Regions from separate parts of the Homo sapiens genome. Here region 2 is linked to region 1. Evidence: fine-mapped expression QTL. Tissue or cell type: whole blood. Region 1 holds a variant in brackets; the other region holds the start of a gene. All regions are shown on one strand. Distances are from middle to middle.

Region 1 (2,764 bases):
CTAAAAATACAAAAATTAGCCGGGTGTGGTGGTGGGCACCTGCAATCCCAGCTACTCGGGAGGCTGAGGCAGGAGAATTGCTTGAACCCAGGAGGCGGAGGTTGCAGTGAGCCGAGATAGCACCACTGCACTCCAGCCTGGGCAATGGAGTGAGACTCTCTCTCAAAAAAAAAAAAAAAAAAAAAAAAAAGTAATGACTTCTGCTGATCTTTTTTCTCCCCTATAGGTTCATAGAAAAAAAACTCCCACCTTATAAAGGAATCTTTAAAAGGTTCCTCATAAAGGAACAGGGTTAGCAGAACCAAGTTTTGAGTCCTGGGTGAAAATCCAGGGGAGAATGGTAATCAGTGATAACCAATGGCCAATCCAATATTAAAATTAGTTAACAGTGACCAATCTTATTTCACCTACCCCACCCAGAGTGGCCCAAAGCAGATTGCTGGATCTGCCTCTAAACCAACCTTCCTGCCAAAATAATTGGGGTTAGGTTGTGTCTGCTGATTGTCTCCATAATTTGAGATTTTAACAAGTTGAGTTTGGCTCCCAAATACCTTAAAGGATTTTTTTTTTGGCATCTCTGGGGAGGGGGAGATTGGACGTAGGCAACCAAACAGGAATGGAATAAGAAAAGATTTGTGTTCTCTGAAGGAGACTTGTGAAGTCTAATTCCAACTTGCTGAGGGAAAGTGTTTAGAAAAGAAAAAGCAATAGGCTTCAACCAGAAGACATGAGTTGGAGTATCTGCTCTGCCATGTAGTAGTTTGTGTGATCCTCATTTGTAAAATGGAAATACTATTTACACCCTTATGGGTTGTTGTGAGGGTCAGAATAGATTGTGTGCATGACAGTGCTTTGTATACGCAGACAGAAGGAAAAAAGCGGCTGTTATTGGCTCAACTTATTTGACCTTTATTTTCATCATCATCGGCCACTATTTGATGTCAATCTACTATGCTGTGAGCAAACATTAAAATTAGGAAGCCAGGGGTATGGGAACCACTGATTAGCATCATATGCCAGATGTGCTTCCATCCAAAGCACATGAACAGAATGATATTAAATTACAAGCCTATCAGGAACAGACCAGCTTTCTGCCTCCCTTTCTATGAATACCAAGTCCCATGAACCTTGTATTCATGTGGAGTTTTAAGTGCATGCTTGGAAGTTATGAGGAGACAGCCTGGTATGTTCGGGAAAGAAAATAAAGGTTAGGTACATGGTAGGCTTTGGCTCAGCCATTTGGGCAAATGACTTAACCTCTCTGAACCTCAGTTTCTGTTTCTATGAAGTGGGAATTGTAATACCTACC[T/C]TCTTCAGATTGTTGTGAGGATTAAATGAGAAGATGAATGTAATACCCTTGAGCACACAGCGTGGTACACCACAAATGCTCAACCAACAGCAGCGATGACAGTATAGGCAACTACCACAAGAAAGAATTTGAACATGTCCCAATTCGAATTTTGATTCCTAATCAAGATCTAGTGAATTTAACCTAAGTAGCAGAAAAGAAGATTAAGAGTTCCTTTCCACAGCTTTATTAAGTTTTTATATTCACCTGGATGTTGTCAAAAGTGACTTGATCATTCAAGAGATAGGGGACATTTGGCTTCCGGTTTGTGTGAGAGCTTTTCTTTCCCCATCAGCTCAACAGTCAGTCCCCAGATCTAGAGATGGAGAGCTTGGGACAAGGTCAGAATGAAACATCACCAGTCAATCCTGCTCAACAGGTAACTCTTGCAGCAATCCTTAAGGAAAGGGGTGCAGGGTCTCTTCATGTTTCCATGGTAAGGTCTATAGCTGCTGCTTCATGGAATAAGCAAACAAAGCCCATGTTGTGTGACGGGTGGCAACACTTTCAGACTTGGATCCTGCACATTCTGATGTGTAAATTCCACGATAGGGCAAAAGCATGCCACTCCACACTAATGCTGCCCTCTCACTAAATTAAACCTTGGAAAAATAAGATGTGGCTTGGCTTTAAAACTCAGTGAACTATCTTTATGGTACAGTTGGTTTCCATAGCTGTAAACACAAAAGATCTATGGTTTCTGCCTACCCAGGATAGTCTTGTCTCTAGACAATGTATTGATGATGCAAATGTTCTGGAACTAAATAGTGGTGATGGTGGCACAACACTGTGAATGTACTAAATGTCACTGATTTGTACGTATTTAATATGAATTAAATGTTAAAATGGTGAATTATATTTATGTATATTTTACCATAATAAAAATATGCATTGGAAGATGCATTTTTTGTGACCCTGAGTTGTAACTGTATTTTTATTTGTGACATGTATATACCACCTACCTCATAGTAAGCCCTGATGTTTGAATGCATATATTTACATCTGCTTTTTGCAAATCTCAGGTCTGAGTGTTCCACTCTGTAGCATTTGGGTATCACCTAGGAATATGTGATTTATTGACATACCTGCTTTGGGTGGGATTGAGAACTGTATTGACTGCATGAGCACATATATTTCCTTATAAAACTCTTTGGCTTTAGCACATATTTGCCTACTGTAGAAAATTCTCCTACCCACAGAGCAGGCTGGGAATGGAATGTGTGTCTGCCTTCTCCAAAGGCATCATATGGCTTTCTTAATGGATGGCAAACAGGAGAGAGAAAGGGGTTCTTAAAGAGTACAACTGAACCAGTTCCTGAGATTCTTCTTTCAGCCAGCTCAGCCTCCTATCACAGGACTCAAGACTCTCAGTTCTTCTAGACAAAGTCAATATTGTTCTTTTATAAAGCAAAGATT
Region 2 (2,764 bases), 40 kb before region 1:
TTCCTTCCTTAGCAGATCTGAATTCAGACCAAAATCCAATTTTATCTTTATCTCAGTTCATCTATTGTCACATAGTATGATGACACCTTTCTGAACTCTCTTATAGCAATGTTTCCTAAATGATGCCTTCCAGACTTAATTTGAATTAGGATGCTATGTCCAGAATTAAGGTCTCATTCACAGTTATGATGTAATTAAGGCAACAATAGCATTTTGTAAAAATAATCTATTAAATATATAGCACCAGCTACCCTTTATTGTTATTAGGATATGGAAGAAGTGGAATTTAACTTAACAATTCTTTACTTAGTTAAGAGGAATATAGCAGTATTTCACAGTGTTCTACAAAAAACATTATGACTTCCATGTATTGCATTAACTGGCAAGTTTAAAAATTAACTTAACTGTTATCTTGTTTTCCAAAATCAAAACTTAGGAACAAACGGCGTGACAAAAGATTTTCTGATCTGTGAATTTATTTAAGTCTTCGAAAGGCAACAAAACTAAATCACCCACTGCTCTGAGGACCAGTTCCCAAGTCATCATGTCCTGCTCCTGTAGATCAAGAAAGATTTGGGCCCACTTCTCTATCTTGGGACTTCTGGTACATGAAAACTAATGTGGAAACAGGTTACAAAAACTATCATATTATATTTTGAAAATTTACATCTAACACACACCATGCAACGTAGTTTTGCTACTCAAAGGTGAATTACAAGATTTATAAAAATGTATTAATTCTTAGAGCAACCACTGGCCAGGAGGCCCAGAAGCTCTAAACAAGTACTGTAATGTTTTTTATTCAAACCTGAAGATGTATCTCTGTGTCTATACTTATAGCCTCAATTAGAGAGAAAGTCAACCAGGAGGCCCTTTCTGAAAGTGAAGCCAAAAAACTCTCACATCACTTCCCCATCTAAGCCGCAGTGACCACTCTCCAACATTGACCACTCTCCAACATAACCCCTCAACTATAGCTGGATGGAGTTCTTGTTTATTCTCCCTGGCATCTCCAACCTTTAATTTTTACAACTTCCCCGCAAATGGATAGCATTCCGTGTTTCTAAGGCTGATTCAAACTCCACGTCTTTCAGGAAGTTTTTTCTAACTCTGTCTCTTGATCTCCAACAGCATTTGTAGTTCATAATGCGAATTTTTGTTCATTACATTCTACCTTCCAAGTTCATCTTCCTGCTTATCCTAATGTGAAGATCAGGACTAAGGCAAGGTGTTCAGCACACACAGTAGGCACTGAATTAATAATATGCCGACCCGTATTTCTTGCAAATCAAACACTGCTCTCGAGTGATTTTCAATTCTACTCATTCCCAAATTGGCTAACAAACCGGTCGGCCAGGCCCCCGAACTACAAGTCCCAGCGGCCTGCGCGGCCCCGGCTCCGGTTATCCCAGCCCAGCTAGTTCTGCCCATGCAGCAGAGCTCCACAAAAGTGCGGGAATGTCTGACAGGGAAGAATCAGAGAAACCTTCACCAGCAGCCCGACATTCACCTGGACGGACAGTGCACTTTTCTTACGTCTGGGCAGGGAAGGCAGGGCGCACCATCTACCGCAGGCTAGGATGATCACCAACCGCCCCACCGCACCCTGCGCCAGCCCTACGGCGCCCGCGGGCTGCAAGTAGCGGCGACCCAGGAGCATGCGCGCTGCCGCCCCTGGCCTGCCAGGACCCAGAGGGAGCGGAGCACGCGCCTTTGGGAATCTTCGGTGCGCCAAGTCTGTTCGCCGCCGGGGTCTATCACCCCCGCCCCTCGCCTCTGCCCGTGAGCGTGTGAGTTGTAGCGTACCCTGGGGTCTGTTCTGGAGGAGGCCTGAGAGCGGGGTTGCCTGGGGCGTGGGTCTCTCATCCCTCTCGTCCTGGTGAAGAAGAAGAGTATACCCAGCGGGTGAGTACCGGCCGCGAGCTCCCGGCTGAGCGGGCGTCCCCGGGGAGGACGCTGCGGGGCGCCGTTGTGGCAAGAGCGGTCGCCCGCGCAGGGCGTGGAGGCGCGAGGCCGGGGGACGCCAGCCGGCAAGTTGCACGGGTTGCAGCGCCCCGGGACCTACTTTCTCTTTGCCGTCGTCCCTGCCTTGCTAGGAAAAGAGGGGAGCTTTGACTTCAGGTGATTTCCTTTGTGGCTTACAAAAGAGCCCCCTAAATATGCAAGCGGTTCCTTTTATTTCCAGAGCTTGCTGTTAGCGTACTAATGTACTATGTTTAAAGTCTTAAATAGGGCATGCCAGACACGCTCACCCATGTGTCGTCATTCATCGCTTAATAAACAGAGTACGGCTCTCATTGTTTTTCTTTTTCCCATTGCCTCGCTCCGAGTTAAAATAACGAGATAAACTAAACGTGATGCGGTTGGGAACTTGTTCAGGGAAACCGGCTGGGGCGAACTTCGGAAACTTGCTAGTGTAGAGAGCCGCACGGTGGTGGTTTGTATGCTTTCACTCATTCAGGCTTTCCACAGTGTTTAACTGCGTTCTGTGTCAGGCATTATGCCCCAACAGTCGTCTTGTGTAAGACTTCCATGCATTTTTAAGCTTTGCTTTTATTTTCTAAATGTACATGTTAATAGAGAATAAACATTATTGACCTCTTTATTCTGATATTAATTGCCTAAGTTTCGTAGGATTGTCTTTATTTTTTAATAGTATGGTGACCAAAAGTAATACTAGTGTTTAACCTTAGTAAGCAAAATAGAGTCCCAGTGTCTCTGACAGCTTGGCACAGTTTCATTTGAGACCGTAAATCCCACCCTG

What was found. PIP is the estimated chance that this variant, and not a neighbour inherited with it, causes the effect.
Region 2: it holds the start of CC2D2B, and the variant in region 1 is fine-mapped to the expression of CC2D2B in whole blood (TOPMed, PIP 0.99).

What each region holds. Positions count from the first base shown.
Region 1 is chr10:95,866,668-95,869,431 of GRCh38, reverse strand. ENTPD1 (ectonucleoside triphosphate diphosphohydrolase 1) reads right to left here. Exons shown (of 10, transcript NM_001776.6): 10 at 1-2,764. All of the region lies in intron 3 of ENTPD1-AS1 (ENTPD1 antisense RNA 1), which reads left to right. Among named protein-coding and RNA genes, the nearest start is that of CC2D2B, 40 kb to the left of the region's middle. The variant T/C (reference allele first, on the strand shown) is at 1,310.
Region 2 is chr10:95,906,804-95,909,567 of GRCh38, reverse strand. It overlaps CC2D2B (coiled-coil and C2 domain containing 2B), which reads right to left and starts at 1,593. Exons shown (of 35, transcript NM_001349008.3): 1 at 1,511-1,593. All of the region lies in intron 2 of ENTPD1-AS1 (ENTPD1 antisense RNA 1), which reads left to right. RefSeq lists enhancers at 1,277-1,336, 1,377-1,566.